7 linked regions of the Homo sapiens genome follow. The protein of the gene in region 4 purifies or fractionates together with the protein of the main gene of each other region. This does not show direct contact. Each region holds a gene or a part of one and is shown on either strand. Other genes may lie near its edges. The genes, in order: MTM1, OGA, FUNDC2, SLC18A2, SEC63, RAP1A and MBTPS2.

Region 1 (4,511 bases), on a different chromosome or scaffold from region 4:
ATCAGAAACTCCAGGCATGATGCCAGGAATTTGTAGTTTTGCAAAAACCCCTCAGGTGATTATGATGTGGCTTGCTGCTCTGAGTGGGAGCCACAGAGCAACACTGTTGGCATCACCTGGGAGCTTGATGGAAATGAGAAGAAAAAGCTCTCCGGGCCCATCCCGGAACCACTGAGTCAGAATCTGTGTTTCAACTCGAAGTCCAGGTGATTCATAAGGCAATGAAGTTGGAGAAGCGCTCCTGGTAGTGCTGCACGCTGGGACCACTTTTTAAAAATGCAGATGTCAAGAGTCTCAGCCCAGATCAATTAAGTTCGAATATCTGTGGGCGATGCCCAGGGCAGCAAGTATGTAAAACTCCCCAAGTGATTCTAATGAGCAGCAGGAAAGGCAATCTCCTGGTCCGTGGTATTCCCTCTATGAGGAAACTTCTGTTTAGGGACTCTGCACCAGCTCTGAAAAGCCAGAGAAGAAAGAGGCATTCCTCGAGTTCTTTGAAGTTCCCCTCAAGAAAGAAGATTGCATTTCATACATATACCAATGGTGCCTTTTTAATATGGCTTACAAAACTAAAAACTGAAACCGAGAAAAAACCCTGTAGTCATGAGAGCTGCAGGAAGTTGCAGCGGAGGCTGCAAACCCAGAAGTCAGACTTGCCTGGGTTCAAATCCTGATATTACTGCTTCCTAAACGCTTCAGCTTAGACCTAACCTCTCTGAAACTCAGTGGGGATCTTAACAGTTTTTACCTCAAAGCGATGCTGTGAGGATTCATATGAGACCTGATGTAAAAGCACTGGGCTAAGGACTTGGCAAAGATTACACCTAATATTAATGTAAATTATGACTGAGGCGGCTATTTAAGCATTGACAGTGAATCTGATGAAATCCTCAGCAAATCAAGACCAAATGTATCTCTCCACAGCTGTAGCTCCTGAACACTTGAACTGTGGCTAATCCAAACTGAGATGGGCTATAATGTAAAATATACACCTGATTGACAATTTAGTACCAAAAAAGGAAAAACGTGTCATTATTATGTCGATGACACATTGAAATATTTCGCACATGCTGTGTTAAATATATTAAAATTGATTTCACCTGTTTCTTTACTTGTTCAATGTGGCTACTAGAAAATTTTAAATTACACATTCTCTATTGGCTAGCGCTATCTTAAAGGACTGGGAAGCCAGGATATGAGCTGGTACTATTAGACTATTTCCGAACTTTAATTTACTGCAAAATCACCCGGGGGCCTCATTAAAATTCACATTCAGCTTAAGGAGTCGGTGGTGGGTCTCAGTGGGTGAGGATGGGGCTTGAAATTCTGCCTGTTTCACCAGCTCCCGGGGAGCAAGGGCAATCCCCATCAATAAGAAAAACCTGTTTCATGCCATAGGCGTAATGGGAATCTCTGGGGAGATTATTAGAGTTGATATAGTGAAGGAAGGACATGTCCAGCAGAGTTAGACTCAGCTTCAACTTTGAAAAAATCAGTTCTCTCTCCAAGCAAGGGATTCAAAGAGGTGGGGGCCAGCACCAACGGTCAGTCCTCCCTTTGTTAGGGCAGTAGGGACCTGTGCTTTCTCTCCCAGATCCAGAACCACTGACATGGGCAAGGAACACCTCAGAACCAGGAAACTCAAAATGGAATACTGGCTGGGGTTTCTCATATCCTCCTAGTCACATAACCCGTGTTAACCGCAGCGCCCTCCTGGGGTCTCACTGAAACCAAGTGCAAACTTTCCTTCTTACTGTTATCCACAAACAGTACTGACACGCAGGTATATTTCATGTCATGGCCAAGGGTCACTGCTGTGCAGGCAGGTACATTTCTTATTTCAGTAAAAGAGCTTGGGCCAATTCCAGGCCTGCTGGATTCCAGCATAGTACCTATTCTCCTAAATCCCCACCTAAGTTGTCTCAGGGCCATAAAGCAATTTAAAAGTCATATAAGGGAATTTAAAGCACCACCACCTGATGCTAAGAATCTACCTTATAACCCACCTCTGCCTCTACATCTCCCAAGAAGGGGAAAGGATAACTGATGTAGCAATCCATTACATTCCAAGCAAAAGGCTCTGGGAAATAAACAATGCTTCCTTCTCACAAAAAAGTTCAAGGACATGCTATCAAAATATAACAATTATCACATGCTAAAGAAAGGGCATTGCTGTGTGCTGTCAGGGTTTGGAGGCAAGGGGATAAGAGATGAATGAGTTACAAACAACTTTTATTTTTACTTTCAATTATTCCCCCTTCAACTTCCCACCCCAAACATACTAGCAAGCAAAGCAAAAACTAATCTGTACTCAAACTGCTCATGCCAAGAGTTCAAAAATCAAGAAGCTGAGAAGAAAAGGGTGGCAAGACAATGACTGATTCAAAGAACTTTCTCATTTGCTGTTTGACCACGGCAAGAAAGGTTAAGCATGAGCTCCATTTCATCTGGCAGACAGGGAGCATGATCTCTAGACATGCAACAGAATTGGTTACAATGATCATGTGTGAACAATTCTAAGCTGGCCTCCTTTGTCTAGTTCAAGTTAAATAATGTTTACTAAATGTCTACTGTGTGTATAGGACCATCTTAGGTTTCAGACAATCAGAAAAAATATCTCCAACCTCGCCCTTTTTATTACAATCATAGAAAATGAAAAACATACTGAAATATGTAGGAGTTACCTATTAAGACAAACAGTCAAGGAACAGCAATACTAAACTAATACAAGTACATGAAATTCATTGCAAAGTGCAACTTACAGAGACATTTCAAGATACTGAGAAACAACTTTAACGAGAAAAGGCCGCTCAGGCGCCTGCCCTATCACTCAGGAGCCTGCCCTGTTCCAGCAAGGAGGATGGTACAGACCTGGGGAGCTATCAACCATCTCTTCCCCAGAGCCTGGATCGCTTTTTATTCTAACCCCAGAAGCACAAGCATCCAGTCTAGTATGGACTCAGGAGCTGCGGTCAGGTCTCGATTGGAAAAGAGAAAGTCTTCCATTCTGAGACACTTGGGAGAGGCAGGCAACATTCCCTGAGGCTGAGCTTGCCTTGCTGTCACCCTGTGATTGTTGGTTATACACTACTACCATTTTAGGAATACATAAAACAAAAACTTGTTATGGTATACCAGTGACATCAGGCCCCTATGAAAGAGGCAATATAAATACCTGCATATTTTAATGATGACAGAAGAGGGAGATTGAGGCAGAGAGGCCACACCTACAGCCACAGGGAAGACAGTCCAAGAACAGGAAGGACAACTGCCCTCTTATACCAGTTCTCCAAATAGCAACTGCTTATACAACACATTCATGCAATAATAATAATGCTGCACACTTTACAAAGGGCTCTGAGGCACATTTGATTCTCTGACGAACTCTGGAAACTTGGCAGGGCAGGTTTTATTAGCTCTATCTTACAGATGGAAGAGCCACTAGCAGCAAGGTTAAATGACTTGTCCAGTGACACAGAGTTAAGGAAGAGAACTGGGACCTGAACTCAGCTTCTGGAATCCAAATGCAGGAAGCTTTCTACCACCTCACACAAACAAAAGGCTCATTTACCATAGTTCCTCTGGTAGAAATAGAAAGCACTAGTAGTACACAATGCCAATTATCTAAAGAGATGCCTCCACATTCTTAAAAAGAAAAAGATGAGACTGTCGTGGTACTCACAGTGGAAAAATACACTGCAAAGATTTCCAATGAAAAATCTTCCCCCAACTACAGGATGACAACGGGACCTAACTCAGTAACTCCTACTGGGTCTCCTGATACACTCTCACTTTCAAGGCAGATAAACTAGAAGAAGGCCTCTCTTGCTCTATTATTGTTTGTAGCAACAAAATTTGGCCTCAAGAAATTTCTAAGTCCAAATGGTAAAGGGAATATAGCACTGCAAGAACGGAGGACACTGCTGCCAGCGTCGCCTGGAACCAAAAGCTCGTGCCAACAAGGAAATGCAGAGAAATGTCGAGAAAAGCAAGCTACTGGATTCCAAAAGTTTATTAAGACATAGCTAGAATAATGTATTTTCTTAAAAACAAAAGAGTTCCATATCGTTCAAGTCAATAACAGCTTTTCTTTAGTGTCTACTACATGCAAGACACTTTTCTAAGCACTTAGCATAGATTATTCACTCAGTCCCTCCAGCAACCCTTTGAGAAAGGTACTATTATTATTCTCATTTGACAGATAAGGAAACTAAAGCACAGAGTTAAGTACCTTGCCTAAAGTCACACAGATAATATTAGGTCCAGGATTCAAATTGGGGCAGGCTGCCCAATCCAGAGTCAAAATCTTCTAGGCAAATGACGGTCCCTATCCCCCACATCTGCCAAAAAGGAAATAAAGAACTAGAAAACTAGAAAATAATGAAAGCAGAACTTCAAAGAGGTCGAAAACAGGAAAGGAAAATTACTAAAGAATAATGAAAACAATCTATTATTCTGTTACAAAATCGAATAAACTTTAGAAATGAGAAACTCCAGCCTTTGAAATCCTC
Region 2 (4,511 bases), about 15 Mb from region 4:
GCAATCCAAAAAAAGTTATCTATTTTCAAATTAACAATCTGAGACTCTACTTTTAGTAGCTAATTAGTTGTATCACAGGGAAACTTTTTTTTTTTTTTTTTAAATATTTAAGAGCTCAAAGGTATACAGGCAGAAAGTGGAAAATCTCACTACTACTTTTTATTCTAAGCTCACGGTGTTTCAGATATCTATTTCACAACCAAGACCATGAAACCCATCATAGTATTTGTGACTACTATGAAAACTATGACATGTCAGTCAGCCTTGCTGCCTGCTGTGTGCTGTATATAAGTCCATTACATATTCCTTATAGCTGGATTGAAAACCTGAAAATGAAATGAAGTCCCTAGAGAAACTTGGCCATGCTGGTGCTTTTTACCAAGTTTGACAATTTAAAAAAAAAAAATCAGTGTTCAAAGGAGACATACAAAAGTCCATTTAATGTAGCAGAGATGTTTAGGGGATTACAATTTCTATCCCCTGGTAAAACCAATACTTGGTAGAAGGATAAAGAAAAAGCCACGTGAAATAATACTGAATAGCACCAGAATAGCCTTACACTAAAGCTCGCATGCGCACAGGGCTGGGAGGATGGCTTCCTCTTGCCAGGCCCTTTAGGTCATTTCAGCAATTGTTCTGTTAAACATAGCATTAATGTTATCAAGACACAGCAAGCAGCAGAAAGCTTGTGGAGTCACATTTCATAGTGTCTCATCTCCAAATCAGATAAAAGTGGTATACAGGGTTCCATCCAGAAAGCATTCAGTCAGAGCAAGTTAAAGTCAGTACTTTCTAACATACTTTTAAGATACTTATGCTGAATTAGCCCAAGGGAGAAAAATTAATGTGCTTGATGTATTTACTAAGACTTGCATCTCAAGTCTTCAATAATGCCTATTTTTGAAAGAAACCTAGGCAACGAATTGAAGAGACTTGGAAATGTGCCAATTCCCTAAATGTTTTTCTCCCTGTGGGATAATTTTTTTTAAAGGGACAATATATTTGAGGAGAAGAGATTATTCCTGGTGCACCTACCTAACCACTGTACAAAAGACTTCACCATAGACATTATACTCTTGATATCCCAAACATAGGAGTACATGTCATAAAGAATTGTCCTGTTGGCACAATTGGAGAGCCGAGTGAACATTCCCATCACTAGTCCACACATCTCTTCAAACTTGGCTGCTCGTGACCGCCATTCTTCAATCTATTGAAGATCAATAAAAAGACTCAAAAAACTGTAAGCTTAACAAAATAATCTGAGACACAGTTACACATTAAGCTGCTTATGTTGTCAGGTACTGGCAATTTATCTTAACCATTAAAGTATCATTTTGTGTCTCCCCAAACTGACAAATATTCCTAAAATAATGACCTTTCCTCATTCTTAACTAGAAGGGCAAACTATGAAACTGAAGGTACCAGATTTAGTAGAGTCCACATCCACTGTAAAGAACATACTTTTTTTTTTTTTTTTTTTTTGAGACAGTTTCCCTCTCGTCACCCAGGCTGGAGTACAATGGCACGATCTCAGCTCACTGCAAACTCCGCCTCCCGGGTTCTTCAAGCGATTCTCCTGCCTCAGCCTCCTGAGTAGCTGGGATTACAGGTGCCCGTCACCATGCCCGGCTAATTTTTGTATTTTTAGTACAGATGGGGTTTCACCATGTTGGCCAGGCTGATCTCAAACTCCTGACCTCAGGTGATCTGCCCGCCTCTGCCTCCCAAAGTTCTGGGACTACAGGCATGAGCCATCATAACCGGCCTAAAGAACATATTCTAAAACATGGTCAATTTTCTGTCAGTTACAGTGTACTCATTTAAGAACCTTTTCCACATTACCAGTATGGGGAACCACCCAGGCTTCAGCAGCAGGTACATTAAACATACTCACTTTTTCAGAGTCTTTTCCTTTGCAATTGACACTGACAACACTACTATTTGCTCGAAGCCATTGAAATTCCCGTAACATCTGTGCTCCTTTGGGTCCATGCTCGTAAGGAAGGTAGAATAGATCAGCAAGTAACTGCAAATCCTCCAGGGTCACTGGTTCCGCAGTGTACAAAGGCTTTTCATTTGGACCTGGCACAAACTGCTCCTTGTTTGTCTGTTCATCAGTTTGCATGGGGGCAATGTCACTAATACAATCTTCTTGCATGGACATCTCTGGGGATTTTGATTCAGCTATGCTCTCTTTATCAGTGTCCATTGGTTTCAATTCCTCTGCCATTTTCGCTTCAACAATTTCACTCAGTATTTGATTGTCATTCTTGTGGTCCGTTTCTTCTTGTTTTTCCACCACCATGTCCATGGGTTCTTCATCAGGCTGTTTCTTTTCTTCTTCCTTGGTCAGAGTAGTAGGCTCACCACTCAAGGCTGCTCCCTGGCTCATAATGGGCTCCTGATAAACTGTTGTTACTACGGTTGTGGCATTTAAAGAGGGTGCTGCAACTAAAGGAGTCCCATCAACTACACTTGCTTTAGCTCCACTGTGTGCAACTTGCCTACCTACAAAAATAAATAAATGTATAAATAAAATGGTCACACAGATAATCAGAATTAGAGATAGAACACATTAGATTCAGAAAGATGCTTTATCATATTTGTTAAGTGGAACCTCAATTTTAGATCCAAATTAATTTGACCTCTAAGAAAAATGAGATTTCTCTATACTACTAGGGATGCAGGAATGGAAGGGCGTTGGGAGGTAAACATGCCAACATCTACTATTACATTCTCTTTTGAAAATTTGTGTCTAAAAACCCTTAAATTACTTCAAAAAATATGTTTTTAAGAGAAATTAGCATTCCATCAAAATAAAAGCTAATATTTAAGACCAAAAGTAAGATTTAAAAATCCTTATTCTCTAGATCCCCCAATTTCATTTAATTTCACTTTGCTTAGTGGGCATAAGGTAAGGCACATGACAGTGTTCTTTTTTTTGAGACAGAGTCTCGCTCTGTCACCCAGGCTGGAGTACAGTGGCTCAATCTTGGCTCACTGCAACCTCTGCCTCCCAGGTTGAGGCGACTGTCCTGCCTCAGCCTCCCAAGTAGGTGGGACGACAGGCGCATGCCACCACGCCCGGCTAATCTTTGTATTTTTAGTAGGGACAAGGTTTCACTATGTTGGCCAGGCTGGTCTCGAACTCCTGACCTCAGGTGATCCGCCTGCCTCGGCCTCCCAAAGTGCTGAGATTACAGGTGTGAGCCACCACACCCGGGAGACAGTGTTCTTTACTTTGTGACTCAACTATGTGATCTAACCCCCTTAACAAAGAATGGCCAAACTCACTGCTGTATTGATGAGGCACACCAAACTCTTGCAACCATTCTGTTAATGCTAGCTTTAGAGCCATCTGTGGACTATAGAGTACATCAGTTTCAATATCTTCATCACTGCCTTCATTTTCTAATTTTATCTGGATGGACACAGTACTATCTTCACTGTCAGCTGCAAAAAATAAAATAAAAAAGCACAAAAATAGTTTTGATTACAAAAGCCTTCTGACAAGTGAGAAGAATAAATGCAACTAGTTTTCACAGTATAACCACAGAAACAAAGAACAGAATGAGAACAAACCTTAAACATAAAAATTCAAATAAAAGCAAGACCCTTCACCAAACCACTTCATATAGGATAGTAACCTAAACGTAATGTTAAATGTAAAATCTCAATTGAAATAAGAAATATAAATTTTAGTATCAGTGGAAGAGTCAATCTTAACCGTCTACTGAGTACTAATTGTTGGGAAGTCAAGGTCAAAAGTACCATGCTTTTCGTATGAAGAAAACATTGCATAGCCTTCAGGGCCTTGTAACTTCTTTTTTTTTTTTTTTTTTTTTGAGATGGAGTCTCACCCCATCACCCAGGCTGGAGTGCAGTGGCAGGATCTTGGCTCACTACAACCTCCGCCTCACAGGTTCAAGCAATTCTCCCACCTGAGCCTCCCCAGTAGCTGGGACTACAGGCGCATGCCACCATGCCCAGCTAATTTTTCTATTATTCGTGAAGATGGGGTTTCACCATGTTGGCCAGACTGGTCTCGAACTCGACCTTGTGATCTGCCCACCTGGGCCTCCCAAAGTGCTGAGATTACAAGCGTGAGCCACTACAACCGACTGTAACTTCATTAATAAAGGCGCTGAGGGAAAAAGAAGAGGCCAGGCATGGTGGCTCATGCCTGTAATCTCAGCACTTTGGGAGGCTGAGGCGGGCAAATCACCTGAGGTCTGCAGTTTGAGACTAGCCTGGCCAACATGGTAAAACCCCATCTCTACTAAAAATACAAAAAATTAGCCAGACGTGGTGGCAGGCACCTGTAATCCCAGCTACTCGGGAGGCTGAGGCAGGAGAACTGCTTGAACCCAGGTGTCAAAGGTTGCAGTGAGCTGAGATCGGGCCATTGCACTCCAGCCTGAGCAACAAGAGCAAGACTCCGTCTCAGAAAAAAAAAAAAAAAAGAGATAATCGACAGAGACCCACAAATTAGCACACATAAGGCAACA
Region 3 (4,511 bases), on a different chromosome or scaffold from region 4:
AGGAAACAATCATTATGTGTAACCATTAAATGGTACTTTAAGATGATGTTTAGATACATGCTCCACATTAAGTGACCAATTTCACAGAAGCCAATGTGTTTTCACTGGTTAAAGGAGATGATGGTACCTATAACTGCAATACTAAATCATGCACAAAAGACAGTGGACATCTTTCACATCACTTACCATCCAGTGACACCTCCAATGAACAGCTGGGTTGCCACGCTATACTTTTCTGCTGAAGGTCCAGATTCCTGCCCGAACAGCTTACGCCACCATGGCTGCTTCTTAGCAAATTCCGCAAGGTCCAGTGACTCAAAATTTCCCTCAAAGTTTCCTACAAGAAGTAATACGTTAAATAAGAAAATATTTACTTTTATACCTAACTAGATTGAGATATTTAAAGAAACAGACATAAATGTAATAAGAAACCTCCAAATATTCTATTTTAAATAGTAAATTTATTCTAAGTTGCAATTTTGGAAAATCAGACTAAAATCAGCAAATACTAATGTCTATATTACAGGGAAAAACCTAGAAAATCTCAAATTAGTCCTCTAGTTTGTCCTCTCAAATTTAAAAATAACAAAAAAGGCTGGGCGCGGTGGCTCACGCCTGTAATCCCAGCACTTTGGGAGGCCGAGGTGGGCGAATCACCTGAGGTCAGGAGATCGAAACCAGTCTGGCCAAAATGGCAAAACCCCATCTCTACTACAAATACAAAAATTAGCCAGGCGTGGTGGCAGGCACCTGTAATCCCAGCTACTCAGGAGGCTAAGGCAAAAGAATTGCTTGAACCCAGGAAGCAAAGGTTGCAGTGAGCCGAGATAGTGCCGCTGCACTCCAGCCTGGGCAACAGAGCAAGACTCCATCTCAAATAAATAAATAAATCCAAAAAGACCTATAAAAAACTGCCAGTAATGCATCCCAAATGAAACAAATTTGCCCCTTCTCTTCAGAAGTAGCTCAATGCTATTCAGTAATCCACAAATTTTCTAAGTACTACGTGGATCTCCAGTGATAATGAAGATGAGAGGGTAATGTTTAATTGAGCTCTTACTATTTACCAGGCAATGTGCTAAACATTAATCATGTACATCTAATTAATCCACAGAATAAGGTAGGTACTACTTATTAACTCAATTTTATAATTAAGAAATGAAGGCCAGGCATGGTGGCTCACACCTGTAATCCCAGCACTTTGGGAGGCCGGAGGCAGGTGGATCACCTGAGGTCGGGAGTTCAAGACCAACCTGACCAGCATGGAAAAACCCCATCTCTACTAAAAATACAAAATTAGCCGGGGGTGGTGGCACATGCCTGTAATCCTAGCTACTCGGGAGGAGAATCACTTGAACCTGAGGGGCAGAGGTTGCGGTGAGCCAAGATCGCACCACTGCACTCTAGCCTGCGCAACAAGAATGAGACTCCATCTCAAAAAAAAAAAAAAAAAAAAAAAGAAGGCACCAGGCGTGGTGGCTCACGCCTGTAATCCCAACACCTTGGGAGGCCAAGGTGGGCAGATCACCTGAGGTCAGGAGTTTGAGGCCAGCCTGGCCAACATGGTGAAACCTCGTCTCTACTAAAACTACAAAAATTAGCTGGGCATGGTGGCATGCGCCTGTAATCACAGCTACTTGGGAGGCTGAGGCAGGAGAATCACTGGAACCGGGGAGGTGGAGGTGGCAGTGAGCCGAGATCGCGCCACTTCACTCCAGCCTGGGCAACAAGAGTGAAACTCCGTCTCAGAAAAAAAAAAAAAATGAAATGAAGGTTCCAAAGTTAAATGATTTGCCCAAGCATGGAGAAAGACTTAACAAAATGTCAATCCCTTTCTCTGTGGGAAGATAATGTCAGGCTCCCCTACTATACCCAGCCCTGTTTCCCTGGAAACACACCGCACTAAGAAATGTCTGATATGAAATGTCAGCAATGTACTATTCAAAGCTGTTTACTGTAAAATTGACCTCAAATGATCAACTTCATCTGGCATGGAGTGTGTACAATCTTTTCACACATAATGTAACAAACAATAGAAAATGACTACTACCCATGCAAAGGCAAAGCCATATAAAGGAAACAAAATTTGTTTAAATAAAAGAAATAGAAGCAGGCCAGGCACGGTGGCTCACGCCTGTATCCCAGCACTTTGGAAAGCCTGGGGGACGGATCACTTGAAGTCTGGAGTTCAAGACCAGCCTGGCCAACATGGTGAAACCCTGTTTCTACTAAAAATACAAAAATTAGCTGGGCGTGGTGGCATGTGCCTGTAGTCCCAGCTACTCGGGAGGCTGGGACAGGAAAATCACTTGAACGCGGGTAGCGAAGGTTGCAGTGAGCCAAGGATCGCACCACTGCACTCCAGCATGGGTGACACAGCGAGACTCAGTCCCAAAAAGAAAAAAGAAAAAGAAACAGAAACAGAAACAGAACCAGTGATGATCAAGATGCTGAAGTAAGCAAATAACAATGATCAAAAACTGCTCAAAAGATTAAACATATATGTAATTGGAGTTCCAGAAGATTAGAAAGAATGGGATAGAAGTAATATTCAAAGAGGTACACAAAAGTTATTCAGGCCGACAAGAAATGATGCCACATGGAAATATGGAAATGCAGAAAGGAATGAGACACTGGAATGGGCAAATAGGTGGATAAATCTAAATGAATACTTACTGTAAAAAAATAATAATTACAGAAATTTTATACTTTAAAATCAAAGAAAAAAATCAGAATAAAAAGTAGAAAATAGGGGCTGGGCGTGGTGGCTCATGCCTATAATCCAAGCACTTTGGGAGGCCGAGGCGGGTGGATCACCTGAGGTCAGGAGTTCGAGACCAGCCTGGCCAACATGGTAAAACCCCGTCTCTACTAAAAATACCAAAAATTAGCCGGGCATAGTGGCAGGCGCCTGTAATCCCAGCTACTCAGGAGGCTGAGATGGGAGAATTGCTTGAACCTGGGAGGCGGAGGTTGCAGTGAGCCGAGATCAGACCACTGCCCATTTTCCTGGGCAACAAGAGCGAAACTCCATCTCAAAAAAAAAAAAAAAAAAAGTAGAAAATAGGAATAGAAAGGGATTTCTTCAATCTGATATAGGACATCTATGAAAAATATACAACTAACATCATACTTAATGGTGAAATATGGAACACTTTTCTTTCCCTAAAATCTATTCAACTGTTTTTTGTTTTGTTTTGAGACAGGGTCTCACTCTATCACCCACATTGGAGTGCAGTGGCACTATCACAGATTACTGCAACTTCAAACTTCTGGGCTCAAGCAATCCTCCCACCTCAGCCTCCCCAGTAGCTGGACTACAGCTGTGCACCACTATGACCAACTGATTTTTTTTTTTTTTTTTTTTTTTTTGTAGACAGGAGGTCTCACTTTGTTGCCTAGGCTGGTCTGGAACTCCTGGCCCCAAGTGATCCTCCCTCCTTAGCCTCCCAAAGTGCTGGGATTACAAGTGTGAGCCACCTCGCCCAGCACTGTACTGGAGTTCCTAGCCAGTGCAACAAAAGAAAAGAAATAAAAGTCAAAGAGATTAGAAAGGAGGTACAACAATAATTCTGTCTTCATTGGCAGATAATATAACGGTGTATATAGAAAACCCAGAAAAATCTACAAAAAGGTACCAGAAGCAAGGTCACACATTATAAGACCAATATTAAAAAGTCATTTGAATTTTTGTGTATTAGAAATGATGAATTGGAAAACAAAATAATTTTAATTGCAAAAATTATGTTGTAGTAAATTCAATGAAAGATGCACAAGACCTGTTCACTGTAAACTAGAAAACACTGCAAACTACAAAACACTGCCAAGAAATTGAAGATGACCTAAAATAACAGTGATATACTGTTTATGTTTTGCAAGACTCAATATTTTTAAGATGTTCATTCTCTCCATATATTGATCTATATATTCAATACAATCTCAATTAAAAAGTAGGTTTTTTCTTTTTTCTTTTTTTTTTTTTTTTTGAGATAGAGTTTTGCTCTTTTTGCCCAGGCTGGAGTGCAATGACAATCTCGGCTCACCACAACCTCCTCCTCCCAGGTTCAAGTGATTCTCCTGCCTCAGCCTCCCAAGTAGCTGGGATTACAGGCATGCACCACCACGCCTGGCTAATTTTTTGTATTTTTAGTAGAGACAGGGTTTCTCCATGTTGGTCAGGCTGATCTCAAACTCCCGACCTCAGGTGATCCGCCTGCCTCAGCCTCCCAAAGTGCTGGGATTACAGGAGTGAGCCACCACGCCCGGCAAAAAAGTAGGTTTTTATGTAATTGACAAACTGGTTCTAAAATTCATATGAAGATACAAAAAAACCCAGCAGTGTTCCAGTTACTTCGGCTGTACTACAAATTACTCCAAAACTTCATGAAGCAAAACAATCATATATTATGCTCTCAGATTTTGTGGATCAGGAATTCAGCCACAGCACTGTGGTTTGTCTTTGTTTCATGTCTGAGGCTTTAGCCAGAAGACTTACAGGCTGGGTCTGAAGA
Region 4 (4,511 bases):
CCCAAGCAAATTGGGTAAACCAGAGAAGATGCCAGGATTCTGACCTGCAGTTCAGATGGCCATCGGGTGACAGCTTCTTCTGTCTCAGCCCACCCAGAGCTGATTCTCTGTACCCCTTATTCATGTGGACAAAAGAAACCCAACACCGGGGGCTCACACGGCACTGCAGGATACTGAATCAGGAAACGTCCAGGAGGCTCAGAGAGGAGAACTCACAGGCAATTTATTTTCAGCAACTACAGTTTGTCCCATGAAAGAACGGGCATATGACAATCTTCCGGGCTGTCCTGGAATAAACACAGGCTTCTCCCTCTGTTCAATATATATTTGGAAAATCTAGTTGTTGAAGTACCAATACGTATCAAAGCTATTGGAATTAGGGGCTTCACTCTTGTTTCACCAGTTCTTCATTTTGGCTATTTATAAGGCTCTAATATGGAACCCTTCAGGCTGCAGGGACATCCCTGAAGGCAAATAAGACATCTGTGGCCCTTTCCCAGACTGTAGGCAGAAACACTGGGTGGTTTCAGGACAAAACTCAATAAAATGTGGCAACCCTTGTCTGTGGCCCCCAAACCACCAGCCATACTGTGCCCACTGTTCAGTCCAGCCAGTATTCCAGGTAACCCATCAGGGCACAGCTGTGGTGGGCTGGAAGCCACTGAGGTCCCTCCCTACCTGAAGACTCAGACATTCCCACGACTGTAGGCAGGGAACCAGCATGCTGGGTGGCCTGAGATTCCAAGGGAGGGTAGCTGGTTTTATCCATTTTTCAGAGGATCAACACTGAGGCTCGGGGAGGTGAATTACTTGCCCCAAATTCAAGGCTACGGGCATACCCTGAGTGTGTTAACATGTGCTAGGCCCTGCTGATGTGCACCTGGGTGGGGACGCTGGAGCACATGGGATGGAGAGTGCACAGTTTCACTGAAAACCACAGCGTTTGTGCCTACAGAGGGTTCTTTTTACCATTTGAGGTACTGTGTTTTCTTTAGAAACACTGCAGCTACTGTTTTTCTTTTTAATTTTCTTTGGGATTTTAACAATGCACGTATGGAATAAACGAATATCACAGCTAGAAGGAAACTCAAGGGCTAGCCAGTCCAAACCCTCACCTTAGATGAGAAAGCTGAGGTTCAGAGACAGAGTGGCTCACCCATGGCTGCAGAGCAAGCCAATGGCTTCAGATACAACCAGGCTCATGTTGCCGCCTCCTCAGTACCGGACACACCTGTGCCTGCACTTTCAACACAGGCCAAGCCACTGCATGGGCTGCTCAGTGGTAAGCGCTGGGCATCATTTTTCCCCAGAGCTCGGCTTCAAGGCAAAGAAGACTCCCTGGGAAGCTCCTGGGTCTCCGTTCTCAAACTCTTCTGGCCCCTCGGGCACCCACCATAGAAGGAGAGTCGTCCAGCGTCCCTAGTCATTGAGTGGTGGGCAGAAGGACCAAACCCTTTCTGCTTCCCCACAGTATCTCCTAAACAGACAGAAACTCAACTGACATTAGTCACAATCTGTGTCTGAGTTGCCCCCCTTGTCTCAATTCAGGGCCTTCTCAATTAAAGTATTGCTAAGCAGAGCCAGATCTGATTCAGCAAACCTTTAGCCAAATGTCATACTGGCCCACGGTCATCCTCTACAGAGCATCACGAAGCAGTTAATCCAATTTGAGTAAGACTAAAAATCACATAATGAATCCCTAGAAAAACATGTAAAACAATAAAAGTTATGTTAATTATATATACTTAGTCATTGGAGAAACCCCATCTGTCCCTAAATGGTCAATGAAGACAATACTTCTCTAGTGTTAATAATTAGCTTATCCTTGCCATAGAGACTAATGGAAGCTCTCTTCTCATGATTGCTAAAACCACAGTTTCCTCTACCGTGGTAAATTACAAGAAGCATACAGACTACAGAGCCCCGAAGGGTGCAAACTATCACCAGATGCAACGAGAGACAACAGCTCCCTTCCAGTGATCCCTACACACTCCTAAAAGGTGTGCAGTAAATGAATGTCAGTAAATGGAATGATATTTTCAATTTGCCTGGATATAGTAGGAGGTTTGTCAATCATTTAGTAAATAAAATTCTTCGATTCCGCTTGTCAAAATTCTTAGGTTCTGCTTGTCTTTTTCAGCTACCAGAGAATTCCAGGGGGCACGGACTTCTCACTTTCCTGGGCGTGAGCCCTGTTCTCTGACACATAGCTTAACAGAGCTTTTGCTTCTCCTAGGAATGTTCTAATTCCACAGCCAGTTTCCTCTGATTTCAGAAGCAAAGACTCATCAAGCCCTCCCTACCATCCTAACCACATGCAGGATGGGAGATCTCTTCTCAGAACAGCCGGTTTCCCTGTCCATAGAGAAGCTGAAAAGGTCACTGCTTGTTCCTACACAGCCCACTTCAGACCCACTGGCTGAAGCTAGCAAAAAAATAAAATAAAACCATGGTAGATTTCGTAGAGATTTCATGCCCTGTGGCTTCCTCCTTGTCGTTCAGATGTTAGCTAAGATTTGCAAGCAAAAAGAACTGCTTTCAAATATACTAAGTAACTATGGAAATAAATTAAGCCATTGACGCTGGCTTGATAAAAAGCAGATCACTGAGACAATGACAAGCTAAGAAGGAAGCAAGGGAAACGGTCCCCAGCAATGAAGTTAACTCTTTCCCAAGCCAGTCGTTTGGTGTGGAATATCTTTTGGTTCTGAAGATGCAACTATTATTTCAACCTTATGCTAAGCAAGACCACAATGCCATATCGTTACCTGACTGAGGGAAGAGAGAAATGTAAACGTGTTGTCCCATTGTTCATGTGCCTGGAACTTTCCTCTTATGGACATATATATCTAAAATTTGCTTCTTAGACCAAATGATGACCAAGTATCACTAGTATAATTTCTGGTACCACCTGCACACAACTGCAATCATGAAATGAATAGTTCAGCCAAAATTATAAAATAGGAGGCAAGAGGTTCCAACATGGAAATCAGGTCAATCCAGCAACCTCAGGCTTTCTTGGAAAGTGTGCTATTGGCCAGGTCATCACTACACACACCCAAATCAAAGGTTTTTGCCACCTAACTGGTCATATATTTTCAGCAGAAATACAGGATCTGAATAACAAATGAAACAGGAAGAATGTGCATCCTATTAGCAGTTAAATGAACCCAAGAATTGTTACTCTATATTTTCAGGGTTTGGTGTGAGAACTTATCGAATATTTAAAAAAAACAGACAGGGCCGGGCATGGTGGCTCACGCCTGTAATCCCAGCACTTTGAGAGGCTGAGGCAGGAGGATCACTTGAGGTCAGGAGTTCGAGATCAGCCTGGCCAAATGCTGAAACCCCATCTCTACTAAAATACAAAAAAAATTAGCCAGGCATGGTGGCATGTAGTCTCAGCTACTCAGGAGGCTGAGGCAGGAGAATTGCTTGAACCTGGGAGGTAGAGGTTGCAGTGAGCCGAGATAGCCCCACTGCACTCCAGCCTGGGCAATAGAGCAAGACCCTGTCTAAATAAATAAATAAATAAACAGGCGGCCTACATTTTGTGACTCCTACCCACAAAAGCCACACACATGGCACCATCACGACTGTGAATAGAGGATTCCAGTTATGGTGTGGTGTGGTGTAGAATGTCTCGATTCAGAGTGGGTCCCACTTCAGTTAAAACAAGCAGCTTTGGAAAAGAATAGCTCTGCCCAGCCTGACTACAGGAAGCTTTCCCCACACATCTTTAGGGATGCACGAGGCTGGACCAGTTCACATCAGGGACTGGAAAAAGACTGAATATTTCAGGGACCAGGGAGGTTCCATGTCCACAGGAATCAGGCTGATCTTTTCTAAACTCTCTGCTCATTGATTAAAAGTAGCAAAATCAGCAACTCACTGGGTCTCCAGCAGTTCTGCCTGGTACAACCAGGAAGAGCCCAAGTCAGTGCAAGAAAGACAGATTTTGAGCTGCATTCTTTATTTCTAGTAGCTAAAGGTACAAGCTGTATAATTGTAAGCAGGTGGGAAGAACAGGAAGCGGGGAAGAACAAAGCTTGAAATGGGACAGTCGGAACATGTGGCTACAGTCCTGCCACTGTTGTGGTAAATGCTTTCTCCTCCTGAACTGCAAACTCCTTTGCCTATAAAATGCTAGGACTGGCCCAAAAGCTTTCAGGAAAAGTCTCTGCAAGCTCTGATGCTCCATATTTTTAACTACTCTTTAATCAGAAACATATTAACCAATTTTAAAAAGCCTTTAAACACATTTGTTTACAACACTGAAGACTTGAGTCATACATCTTGCTCATGGAGGATGTGATTGGCACAGTTTACATCAAAAGACTGTTTGCAATGGCTCACAAGTTAACTCCTTGAAGACAATTAAAGGCAAATGGAATGCACATTTGTCCCTTCTCTGAATCCATCTGAACTGCGGTGGGAAGCAGAATCTTGGAGTGTCCAGAAGAGCTGCCCAGTCCCCAAATTCATATCTACTGGGCTTGGAAATTATGAGA
Region 5 (4,511 bases), on a different chromosome or scaffold from region 4:
CTCAACAATGATTTGTTTCCTGCTTCTTACAGGTAAGTAAAAATGGAGATGCTTATGTATCTGTACAGAACATTAGCAACAGAATTACTAGTTAATTGAGTATTTCAAAGCAACTCCAATGATATTGCCTAAATAGTGCTCCTTCATTCCACCATAAGCATCCTGTCCTATCACCAATTACTAAGCGTCACATGGCCTTGTTTTCGGAAGCATTTAACTGCATTACTGCCTTAAAGGAGGTGGGGGATGGTAGGATATCATTCAAAAAGAACATTTATTTCCTAGAGGTAGTAACTGTCTTTTAAAACTTTAACTGAAATAATGTCGGTGAAAAAGAGATAATTAATGACATCCCTGGAAACACTGTTGCCTCCATCAACTACTTTTCTTTTAAGCAGAATACATGGCTTCAAGTACTTATGAAGCTTTAAATAACTATAAAACAGACATTATTGGTAACCACTGTCGGAGGAAGCTTGTAGATGGGGAGGTGAGAGGTGTTGGTTGTTGTGAAATCCATTTTGCTCCCTCCAAAAACTTACAAAGTCCTTTAAAAAAATTATTAGGAACTTTTGTATGATCTGCAATTAACTAAACATTTCTTATACAGAGCATTCTCTCACCTTGAAACACTAAATTTTAACACTTGCCAAAACGTCTGACTTACTTAGATCTTCAAACCATTTGTGAAGTAATTATGTAGCATATACATTTCTTTTTTAAAAAGTCCTTGAGCAATTATTTGGCCAAAAAAGAACAGCAACAAAACACACCGCACCACCATGCTATGGTTTGGGTCTGTGTCCCCACCCAAATCTCATGTTGAATGGTAATCCCCAATGCTGGAGGTGGGGCCTGGTGGAAGGTGATTGGATCAGGGGGGTGGAGTTCTCCCTTTGGTGCTGTTCTCGAGATACACTTCTCACAAGACCTGGTTGTTTAAAAACGTGTGGCATCTCCCCCATCTCTCTCTTCCTCCTGCTCTGGCCATGTGAAGACACTTGCTCTGCCTTTGCCTGCTCTGGCTTTGCCTTCTGCCATGAATAAAAGTTTCCTGAGGCCTCCCCAGCCATGCTTCCTGTACAGCCATCAGAACAATGAGCCAATTAAACCTCTTTTGTTTATATATTACCCAGCCTCAGGTATTTCTTTAGAGCAATGCGAGAACAAACTAATACACACCATTAAGTCTAATTAATTCTGCTGCTTTCATCCCACTAAACCTCTGTAGATACCGGAATCACAAATACCTTCTTCAAGGGTCTCAGGAATTTTCATTCTAGCAAGATGAGACAGTAAAAGAACTCTGGCCTTCAGGCTATATGGGCAGGTAAGTGGAGGCTCATTCTTCTTTAAATTAATGCTGCCAATTTCTCTGATTAGCTAGAATAAATAAAATAATTATTCAAAAACACGCTTTTTTTAAAAAAAGTATTCACTTTAATACTTAACTGCTCATCGGGGGATTTGGGAAATTAGCCTAACCTGTGGTATTAGAATATTATCCGTTGGTCTGCTTGTGGCATCTTTATTATACTGAGGATCAAATTCAGAAGCTCCAGCCAAAACCATGATAAGACCTAACAAAACAAAAGAAATATGAAGGTAAATAAATATGCTCATTCATTAATTCCCCCTCCTGAGATACTTAATTCACTTGAAAGTGAAGCACTTTTCTAAACATGCACAATGCTAAAAATTATCTGAACTCCACTGACAAGTATTTATTTCTTCCATAAAAAAAGTAACATCTCGCTTTTTAAAATGTACACAGTATCAACCACCACAAGTGAACAGAAGTATAGATCAAATAAAGCACACCAAAGCAACTGGAGGCATTAAAATCACTGAAAGTTCCACAGAAACTTTCTATAGAACATCAGTATTCTGTGTGGTATTAATAATTCACGTGAAAAAAGGGGGCCCTATGATTAAATAAAGCTGAAAATAATGTAAACAAGAGTTAAAGGTTTCTTTACTACATGACTTCTCAAGGCCTTTTGTAAACCTAATATGCATTATAATTTTCCAAAAAAATTTTATTATGGAACCCAAGAGGATTTTGTGGAAATACACATGATTAAAACCCTCAGGCCAGTGGTGGCTCACGCCTGTAATCCCAGCACTTTGGGAGGCTAAGGCAGGCAAATCACAAGATCAGGAATTTGAGACCAGCCAGTTTGAGACCAAGCTGGCCAAAATGGTGAAACCCCATCTCTACTAAAAATACAAAAATTAGCCAGGCATAGTGGTGCACGCCTGTAATCCCAGCTACTCGGGAGGCTGAGGCAGGAGAATTGCTTGCACCCAGGAGGCAGACGTTGTGGTGAGCTGAGATTGTGCCATTGTACTCTAGCCTGGGAGATGAGAGAAACTTTGCCTCAGAGAAAAAAAAATCCATGTAATGTACTCACAAAAGGCAGGATAGTATAGAAGTTAAGTGCACAGACCTTGGTATTTTGTCACTTCCTAGCTAAATGACCTAGGACAATATTCTTCATATCTGTGTATCTCAGCTTCTTCATATGTGCCTGACACACAGCAAGCACAGTACTTGTGTGAGCTATTACTATTACTACCCTCAAATGTTTACTTAATAACAACTGTTCCTAAAACAGCTAAAATAACCTAGAATGTGTAAAGAAATCCACCAGCTAAACAATGCTTCTCTGACAAAGCTGTGTAAGGATACCACCCTCAGAAAAGAAACAGAAATCAAAATGATTGAGGCAAAAAGCACACTTAAAATTATAAACATGAAACATTTTCATAAGGGAGTAAGTTTCTGTATTAACATTTCAATCCAGCTTTAGGAAGAGTAATATTTTCGATAAGGCAAAGTAGTATTAACTCATTCAGAAATGTAAAATCTGTTCACACACAGTCATATATGACCATGAGAAGTCTCTCTCATTACTAAGAAAATTAGTAAAATTGCCAAATCCAAAATGCAGAAAAGTCCATTTTGGTCCCGGAGACACAATTCAAAACTTACATTCTTTTATTTTATTTTTTTTTAAAGAGGGATGGAGGAGCAGCTATGATTTTTGCAGAGCCATCATTCTGAAAGGTAACACTCTATCTCCCAAGGATAAACTGCAAAGTTTGCTTTATATAATCAAAGAAAGTGAAAATAGTATTTTTTTTCTTAAATTTTTAAATAAGAACTGGGAATGAAATACTCTAGCACTAGTTTTCTTTCAACACACCTAAGACTTTTTATTTTTACTACAATTAATACACTATAACATAATGGTTTAAGGCTCAAGAACCAGACTGCCTGGGTTCAATCCTGGATATCACTTACTGTGTATCCTTGAGAGTGTTACTTTTCGGTGCCTCAGTTTCCTCATCTATAAGATGTACTGTAAAACAGCACTCACTTACGAGAACACAGCAAAAATTAAATGAGTCAAGACACATACAGTAACTAGCAGTGTCTGGCATACAACAAATAATAAATGTTAGCTAGAATTACAAAATTTGCACGCATAAGGATTATGGTAAAATTTCTGATGAAATATATGAGTAAATGTGAATAATGAAAATATAAATTAAGAAATGTGACAAAGGGTGCTGGCATTTTTCTCTAGCTTTAATTATATAAATTAACTATTTATAAAACTGTACAATAGAATCTCAACAGTATAGAGTTAAGGAATATATATCAACCCCACATAAGTCACAAAACAATGTGATTAATAGCAAAGTTACTTAAAGTTTACTTACGTTTCATATCCATATTTCGGGTTTTATAAACAAAGTATGTATAAATCTGTGTTGTGCGTATTAGAATCTGGTCTCCACTATAGCGTATTGAGCGATACCACCAAGAGCCCTAAAACACAAAAAAAATTAAACAAGAAAGAAAGTATAAAAACTACGATAGGCTGGGCGAGATGGCTCATTCCTGTAATCCCAGCACTTTGGGAGGCTGAGGTGAGAGGACTGCTTGAGCCCAGGAGTTTGAGACCAGCCTGGGCAACATAGTGAGACCCTGTCTCTACAAAAGAAAAAGAAAAATGCAAACATTAGCTGGGCATGGTGGCACATGCCTCTAGTCCCAGCTGCTCAGGAAGCTGAGGTGGGAAGATTGCTAGAGTCCAGGAGGTCAGGGCTGCAGTAGCCATGATCATACTACTGCACTCCATCCTAGGTGACAGAGGGAGACTCTGTCTCAAAAAAAAAAAAAAAGCAAAACAAAACCCTGATAAATGTTAAGTTTGAGGCAGAATATGTTTATGGTCAAATCTTCTAAATATTCATAAAACAATAAAAATACCTGAGTCTTACAACAAGGACCTCTTTCTTGCATATTTCAAGTGATTTCTTTAGCAAATATTTATACTGTCTGAAGCCTAAACACCAACCTAAGTCACTGCATATATATAATCAAAACATTTACCATTTTGGATAGAAATACCTTAAAGACCAAAAAGGGATAAAACTACCCACTGCTATAAGCACCAAGCTGGTTCTTGACACACAGCATGTCTTCAATAAATACTTGA
Region 6 (3,500 bases), on a different chromosome or scaffold from region 4:
TCAAAAGCAATCCTTTCCTATTAAAGTTTAATCTTTTTAAAAAATATTCTTGGCTACTAGCCTTTTATAACCTCCACCCCACCCAATATATTTGACATAGAAAATACTGAAAATTTTCCACAACTCTGGCTGGTCTTCTACAGAATATTTTTTGTCAAGACCAAGTACCTAATTTTTTTTCCCTTTTAAATAGACTTTATTAGAGCAGTTTTAGTTTCACAGCAAAACTGAGGGGAAGGTGCAGAGATTTCCCACATACTCCTTGCCACCACAAATGCATAGCCTCACCCCACCATCAACATCCTGCACCAGAGTGGTACATTTGTTACAACTGATGAACCCACATGAACACATCGTTATCACCAAGAGTCCACAGTTTACATTAGGATTTTCTTTTGGCATGGTACATTCTATGGGTTTTGACAAATGTATGGCATATAACCCAATTATAGTATTACACAGACTCTAATTTTTTGGTAGTCTAAAGATATCTTTAAACTTATAAAACTAAACAAAAATAAAAATGTTCAGTCACTGGATAACTTCAAGCATAAAGGTGGTCTTAATTGTTGGTAACAAAAGAGTAAGTTGAAAACACACCTACTATTTATATGCAATTTTTTCATATGTGGCAACATTCCCCACCAGGAAAATGTCCACATTAAGGAACAAGTCACTAATCAGTAACAGAACATAGAGCTCTGAATATCAAAGTAGTATTCTGTTAAGAAATGTTCTGTCTTGATGAAACTTTTAAAAACAGATGCACAATATTTGTATTATTTCTCAAAACTATTTTCAAAAAGCAAATCTACAGATCAAATTTTAACATCATAAGGAACTACTTGTAAGCATGTGTGTACAAGTTTCACATTTTACCTTTCTGTAGGAATCTTCTATCGTTGGGTCATATTTTTCAACAAAAATTCCCTGAACAAACTGAACTGTCTGGGGGAAAAAAAAAGAGAAATATTAAAAAATTAAAGGAAAACTCCTTTGAATGTTACTTAACCTACAAATTATAATGATTAATTGAAATTATGTGAAAATTCTGGGTAAACACGTAAATGTAAAGTATATTATTAATTCTTTCAATATAAGGATACATCCATAACTAAGAGTACATTTATTATGAAAGGAGGTAGTCATGTTAAAAACTGTCATCAATACTGATAATACACTGTTAATTACATTAAGTCTTAATATACAAGGATACAAATAACATATCTGAACTAATTAAAACATGAAAAATTATCAATATTTAAACTCCTATTGCCCCTTTATATATCTATAGTAACTTTTATCCCATGCCCTCTGCCCTTAATGGAGTGACAAAGGTTCTAATTTTTTTTTAAACACAGGGTCTTTGCTATGTTGCCTGGGCTGGCCTTGAACTCCTGAACTCAAGAGATCCTCCCGCCTCAGCCTCCCAGGTAGCTGGACCTCAAGCAGCATCTTGTAAATTTGTTAAAGCCTTTCTAAATTGTGGTGGAAAAGAGAAAGGGAAATTTAAACTTACTGAATGTCTATTATGTTCCAGACATTAAGCTAGTCACTTTTAATTTATAACCACATTCAAATTTCACATTTGTCCCAGAAATAGTTATTCTTCCTATTTGCCAGCTGAGATTCAAACATACATCTTCCTGATTCCAAAGCCTTACTTTTTCCATTGGAAAATATTGCCCATTCATCTTTTTCAGATATTATCAACTTTTAAAGGCATCCAAAAGCACATACTAGAAAATACGTATTTATCATTCAGTAAGTGAAAAAAGTACAGAAGACGGTTTTAAGATATTTCCTAGGTAACTTTAAAACAGGGTCTGGTACATTATTGCCTAAAAAGCAAGGGTAAGAATGTGGACTGAGGTCATCTACACTTAAATTACTCAGAGGAATATTTGATATACTATTTTAGCTTGAGCTAAAGAGATTAACTCAAATATAGTAAACAAACTTCTTTCTCCTACTAAGCTTCTATTATTCAAAGGCAACTCAAGATATAATCACACCAAAAACCTTAATCATGATTTTTATCAAGGATTTAATCACCTCATCTTCTAAGTACGACACATAATTTAAATATACAAAGCAGTCTACGCTGGATGCAGTGGCTCATGCTGTACTCCTAGCACTTTAGGAGGCCAAGGCAGGAGGATTGCTTGAGCTCAGGAATTTGAAACCAACCTGGGCAACATAGTGAGACTGTCTCTACAAAAAATTTAAAAATTTAACCAGGTGTGGTGGCATGCACCTGTAGTCCCAGCTACTTGGGTAGCTAAGGTGGGAGGATTGCTTAAGTGTAGGAGGTTGAAGATGCAGTGAGCCATGATCACGCCACTGCACTCCAGGGCAAGATGCTGATTCAAGATTTAAAAAAAAAAAAAAGGCAGTCTAATACAGCTTCCTAATATGCTTTAGGCTAGAGCAGAGAGTCTCAAAATATGGTCCAAGGCAGAGGCTCCCTAAGGTCAAACTATCTTCCTAACAATACTAAGATGTATTCTAAGAGGTACTCTTCTTCTTCTCTCATAAGTTTACAGTGGAATCTTCCAAAGGGTATAGAACATGTGCTATTGAAAGAGACTGGATACAGAAGCAGGCAAAAGAGCCCATGTGCCTTCTATAAGCCAGACATTAATAAGACTTGCAAAAATGCAAAACAATCCAACGTTTCTCATTTCTTTCTTACTAAAAGTAATGTTTGACTACTCCTCTGAATCTTATCCTCTGTCTTAATTTTCAGGGACATCTCATTCATTCATTCACATAGATTATAATTTTATTCCTCAGGTTTTTGTACTGGATCATCTCCTCTTTCCCTCTCCTGTATCCTTATTTTCCTCTCCAGTGGAGAGGAATTGCCCCCAGCATACAAATATGCTTTACTATCTCCAATTCTAAAACAAAAACAAAAACCTCCCTTAACCCCAATATCTCTCCAGCTTCTGCCCCCATTCTCTGTCCCCTCTCATAATCAAGCTTCTTCAAATGTCTATATTCCATTTCCTCAGCTCTCATTTAATCTTCAACCCACCCCATTATGGTTATGGCAACATGACCTGACTAAAGCTGCTTCCTTTATCATGTCCAACTGCCTCTATGCTCTCTGATCATCTCTTTCCTCTTTTTTACTTGACTTTTGAGGAATCAAGTAAAGACACCTTCTTCTATGCTAGATCCTCCAATCCTATCTACTTTCTAAAGGTTGAGAGGTACTCAGAGCTCAGTCCTGGGCTCTGCTCTTCTCTCTCTAGTATCTCCCTAGACCTCTTTCACTCCTATGGACTTTTTCCAAAATTATTTTTGAAAAGGTAATTCATGGACATAGGACTAAATTCAAAAAGGCACAAAAGGCTATGCAGTGATAACTAAGCTTATCTACCACCCTTGTTCCCAGCTATCCAATCCTACTCCCAAGAAAGTAACTGATGTTATTCATAGCTTATTTAACCTTGAAGAGATACTCTATGATTTTACAGGTATCTACCCTCAGC
Region 7 (4,219 bases), on a different chromosome or scaffold from region 4:
GAAGGGACAGTTGCGATCAGTGTTTGCTTTCTTCTTCTGAGCAACAACTCTAAGAAGTTAGGCCAACCTCGATCATGTAAAAAGTAAAAAACTTATCTAAAGCCATCTTGGGCTCAATAATGTCCCTTAAATTCTCTGGGGTTGTGGGGATAGGGGCTTATACACAGCCCCAACAAGAGTTTTACCTTTAGGGAAGTTTGAAGTCCTTGACTAATATAGGATTTTGGATGACATAAGGCTGTGTTATATACCTGACACAGTAAGTACAGTAAGTATTGTCATATTCATGCCCACCCATGTGAGAAACTTATCTGTCCAAGAAGGAAATCTTAGCCCTATCATAGTCTTAAAAAATGACCATAGTCTGAATATAGGTAGCTGTTTGCTTTGGATCTGTAGTATTATCTGCTCTCAGTCTTCAGGTAGTTAAATTTTAAGTGTACTTGTTTTCCAAGACTTGGAAAAGGAGTGACACAACTTCTCTAACAGATGTCTATGCAGAAATCCTAGAAAAGCCCAGGGTGGATCAGCAGACCAAGCTGGAGGCAGAGAAACTAAAGGTGCAGGCTCCTAAAAGTTGAGGTCTCTCCATTTCCCAGGCAGATACTCTGAGTAGGCGTTAGGTCTTTTGCTCAGAGGTTGGTGCATTCTTAAGGAGCTAGGGGTTGTTACTGAAACCAGTGACATCTTGGTCACCTCACACACTTGTGACTAGGGACTGTAAAAGTTCTTTTTATTTTAGATTTTTTTCACATATGCAACATGAAGAAATCATGTGGCTTTGTGTGTGTGTCTTACTATGTTGCTCAGGCTGGCCTGGAACTCCTGGCCTCAAGCGATCCTCCCGCCTCTTCCTCCCAAGTAGCTGGGACTACAGGCTGCACCACCATGCCTGGCTCATGTGGCTTTTTCAAACAACAAAATCATTGTGGCCTGTATTGCTTATGACACGTTAACCACTATGCCAAGTACTTTAAATCAGTGCTTTTTCTTTTGAGACAGGGTCTTGCTCTGTCACCCAGGCCAAAGTGCAGTGGCACGATCTTGTTTCATTGTTAACCTCTGACTCTCAGACTCAAGAGATCCTCCTACCTCAGCCTCCAGAGTAGCTGGGACTACAGGCATGCACCACCATGGTTGGCTAACTTTTAAATTTTTTGTAGAGATAAAGTCTCACTATATTGCCCAGGCTGGTCTCAAACTCCTGGACTCAGGCAATCCTCCCACCTCAGCCTCCCCCAAAGTGCTGGGATTACAGGTGTGAGCCACTGTGACCGGCCACATCAGTGCTTTTCAAACACAAACAGGTGCAGAGGAGTCACCTGGGATCTTGCTAAGATGCAGATTCGGATTCCCTAGGTCAGGGGTGAGGCCTGGGATTCTGCATTTCTAACAAGCTCCGAAATGATGCAAGTGCTACTGGTCCTTGAACCTCAAGTTGAGGAGCGAGACTTTATGTGGATACACTAATGTAATTCTCTCTGTAATCTTAGGAGATCCTTACTATTATCTCTATTTAAAGATGAGAAACCAAGGCACAGATAGCAATTTTCCCAAGGTCACATTGGCTAGAAGCCCAGCCCTGGATCTAAGGACTACGCTATGTAACCTCCTGCACTTTACAAGTTTAAATGATAGAAGGAAAAGTCTCATTTCATTTTATTGTTAAAGCTAAAACATGCAATACTATGGTTTTCTATTTTAAATGGTATTCATAACATGAAGATTTTGCTATCCATAACTGGAATTTTTATTAAACACTTGAGAATTTATATGATCTTATTCCACATATATAGTTACTCTTCCCCATCCCCTACCCCCCAGTACTCAATTCCAAAAGCTTGCCTGAAGCATGTGGTCAGACGACTCTTCCTGATTTTTTGCTACCCTTCTCAAATAACTGGAAAATGGACCGTGCACCCAGGGTATCTGGTTAGTGTGAAGAAGTGGGGTGCAGCGTGTAAATCAGAATTCAAGTAGTTAGAAACTGGTTATGTAAATCCTTGCTATTTGAGTGTGCTACTTTGAAGTACACTCTGTGATCTGGCAGCATCAGTAGCACTTGGGAACTGGTTAGAAATGCAGAATTTTAGGCCTTGCCGCAGACCTGCTGAATCGGAATCTGCATTTTGACCGCAAACCAGATGATCATATGCATTTAAAAATTTGAGACTACTGATTTCAATCACGACTTGATTTAGATTCATTCCAATATCTGAGTCTCTAGAGCGTTTTGAACTTAAAAACAATAAGGGAAAGCACTGTCTTTACTAAGCAGACGTTTTCTTTTCCTCCCTGCTGCACTGCAGCTGCTGGGTCTGGCAGGGCCCCGGCCCTCCCGATCCCACCACTGGCGCCTCCCGGGCAGGACCCGAAGGCTGAAGGGCCTGCACTGCCCCGCACTGCGACAGTGGCAGCCGCGCAGGCCGCCACAACCCTCCCGCGGCCGGCAATGTTTTATTTACTCCACCGGGCCGATCCACCACGCGGACTGTCGCACGTGGGCACCGTCCAGCCCGGGAGGCGCCAGGCAGGGGAAGAGAAAAGAAGGCCTTGCGCTCCGGCCATGGGCACCGCGGGCTTGGACCTTAGGCCCAAGGCCCTCACCTTCAGCACCAAGTCGGTCAGGTAGACGACAGTCCAGCCACCCACCACCACCACCACCAGCGACACCGGAATCATGGCGGCAGCGGCGGCAGAGGAGGGAAGGCGAGCCCCGGCGTCCTCCTCCCTGCACCGCCAACAGCTGACCGCGCGCGCCTTACAGCCCCAGCATCCGCTCAGGAACCAAGCTACCGCCGGCTCCTTCCTTGCGGTGGCACGGTTTCCCACCGGACTCTTCCAGTGGGGACATACAGGAGGATTTGCTAGTACCGGAAATGGCACGGGGGCTTATTTTTGCGGGCGCTCGGGCGCTGCCGTCCAGGCAGTAGTTCGAACTCGGCATCTAGTCTTGTAGCGATTTCTTAGGCTTTGGCCCTCCCTGCTGTCTACTCTCCATTCTCGCCAGTTCTGGTCAGGGGTTTGCTGTTTCTTTTAACCCATGAGGATTTGGGGTCGTCTGAAGTAATAATCTCTCCCTCCCCGACCCTGTCATAGATATCCAGATTTAATTGTTTATCCTTTTTACTGAAGTGTAAATTTACATGTAATGAAATCATACATACAGAGCTCAATTGTCCATTTCTGTGAGTTTTGATAAATATATATATATATATATATACGTGTACCCTAATCAAAATGGAGAAAATTTCCCTCTCAGGAATTTCCTTCTTGCGTCCCTTCCTAGTCAGTAGCCCCTCCCCCTGTTCTGATTATTTTTAACTTTATGTAAATAGAAAGCAATAAGTACTCTTTGTGTCTGGCTTGTATCGTTCAACATGCTTTTTGAAATTTATCCATGTTGATTAAATTAGGCTCTTTTTTCAACCTTTTATAATATTTGAGATGGTGCTATGGTTAAAAATCAGAACTCTGAACACCTACACATTTTAACGTTAATGTATACCTGATTATATATTGAACTAGAGCAGCAGTTCTCAACCTTACCTGCACTTTAGGATCACCAAGGTCTTTTAAAATTCCCGATGCCCGTTCTGTATCCTCGACCAATTAAATCAGATGCTCAGTGGGACCCAAGCATTTATACTTTTTAAGCTCCTCAAGTCATTGCACTGTGCAGCCAAGGTTGAGAACCACTGAACTAGATAATCTCTAAGAGAAAAGAAAACTATTTATTGGGGTTTTTTTACGTTCTATTTATGTGCATCTTTAAAAGTTATTTGTTTCAACTTTTCTGGAAAAGCATCATTAGCTATAATAATGCTAATACCAAAATATTGAGAACATAATACTATCTCAAGAACAAGTATCCCAAATAAAAATGTATCCTCAACCCCCTTCCAAGTGAAAATATACAATAATACCAGAAACCTATATTACAAATATTGCTACTAATTTGCCTCATTCTCCCTGCTTTTCCTAAAGTTTTACTCACTTAGGGACATGTTTCTCCAGCTTCAAGACAGCTTATGACTGTTTTACATATCTTTGCCTATTTGTGTGTGTATGTGTTGTTATAAATTATTTCCGTTTTCTTTGGACATAGCTGGGTGTAAATTATAAAAGTTTGTATTCAAGCACCCTGTTACTCCACAGTTTTCCATATACAAGTATCCCAAAAGACTTAGTGCTGTTTTAAGCTTTAATAATTTCTGAA

Evidence for each region.
Region 1: the proteins of SLC18A2 (region 4) and MTM1 purify together in Homo sapiens (affinity purification with mass spectrometry; one large-scale study listed by BioGRID and IntAct). This does not show direct contact.
Region 2: the proteins of SLC18A2 (region 4) and OGA purify together in Homo sapiens (co-immunoprecipitation; one large-scale study listed by IntAct). This does not show direct contact.
Region 3: the proteins of SLC18A2 (region 4) and FUNDC2 purify together in Homo sapiens (affinity purification with mass spectrometry; one large-scale study listed by BioGRID and IntAct). This does not show direct contact.
Region 5: the proteins of SLC18A2 (region 4) and SEC63 purify together in Homo sapiens (affinity purification with mass spectrometry; one large-scale study listed by BioGRID and IntAct). This does not show direct contact.
Region 6: the proteins of SLC18A2 (region 4) and RAP1A purify together in Homo sapiens (affinity purification with mass spectrometry; one large-scale study listed by BioGRID and IntAct). This does not show direct contact.
Region 7: the proteins of SLC18A2 (region 4) and MBTPS2 purify together in Homo sapiens (affinity purification with mass spectrometry; one large-scale study listed by BioGRID and IntAct). This does not show direct contact.

The regions. Positions count from the first base shown.
Region 1 is NC_000023.11:150,571,147-150,575,657, reverse strand, and holds part of MTM1 (myotubularin), read right to left. Parts: intron 1-4,511. UniProt on the Homo sapiens protein: Lipid phosphatase which dephosphorylates phosphatidylinositol 3-monophosphate (PI3P) and phosphatidylinositol 3,5-bisphosphate (PI(3,5)P2). Has also been shown to dephosphorylate phosphotyrosine- and phosphoserine-containing peptides.
Region 2 is NC_000010.11:101,796,945-101,801,455, forward strand, and holds part of OGA (protein O-GlcNAcase), read right to left. Parts: intron 3,457-4,511; coding exon 3,298-3,456; intron 2,512-3,297; coding exon 1,898-2,511; intron 1,211-1,897; coding exon 1,036-1,210; intron 1-1,035.
Region 3 is NC_000023.11:155,029,229-155,033,739, reverse strand, and holds part of FUNDC2 (FUN14 domain-containing protein 2), read right to left. Parts: intron 338-4,511; coding exon 187-337; intron 1-186. UniProt on the Homo sapiens protein: Binds directly and specifically 1,2-Diacyl-sn-glycero-3-phospho-(1'-myo-inositol-3',4',5'-bisphosphate) (PIP3) leading to the recruitment of PIP3 to mitochondria and may play a role in the regulation of the platelet activation via AKT/GSK3B/cGMP signaling pathways.
Region 4 is NC_000010.11:117,246,995-117,251,505, reverse strand, and holds part of SLC18A2 (synaptic vesicular amine transporter), read right to left. Parts: intron 1-4,511. UniProt on the Homo sapiens protein: Electrogenic antiporter that exchanges one cationic monoamine with two intravesicular protons across the membrane of secretory and synaptic vesicles.
Region 5 is NC_000006.12:107,905,198-107,909,708, forward strand, and holds part of SEC63 (translocation protein SEC63 homolog), read right to left. Parts: intron 3,839-4,511; coding exon 3,730-3,838; intron 1,581-3,729; coding exon 1,486-1,580; intron 1,384-1,485; coding exon 1,251-1,383; intron 1-1,250. UniProt on the Homo sapiens protein: Mediates cotranslational and post-translational transport of certain precursor polypeptides across endoplasmic reticulum (ER). Proposed to play an auxiliary role in recognition of precursors with short and apolar signal peptides.
Region 6 is NC_000001.11:111,692,789-111,696,288, reverse strand, and holds part of RAP1A (ras-related protein Rap-1A precursor), read right to left. Parts: intron 949-3,500; coding exon 880-948; intron 1-879. UniProt on the Homo sapiens protein: Counteracts the mitogenic function of Ras, at least partly because it can interact with Ras GAPs and RAF in a competitive manner. Together with ITGB1BP1, regulates KRIT1 localization to microtubules and membranes.
Region 7 is NC_000023.11:21,838,198-21,842,416, reverse strand, and holds the start of MBTPS2 (membrane-bound transcription factor site-2 protease), read right to left. Parts: upstream 2,801-4,219; 5' UTR 2,683-2,800; coding exon 2,608-2,682; intron 1-2,607. UniProt on the Homo sapiens protein: Zinc metalloprotease that mediates intramembrane proteolysis of proteins such as ATF6, ATF6B, SREBF1/SREBP1 and SREBF2/SREBP2.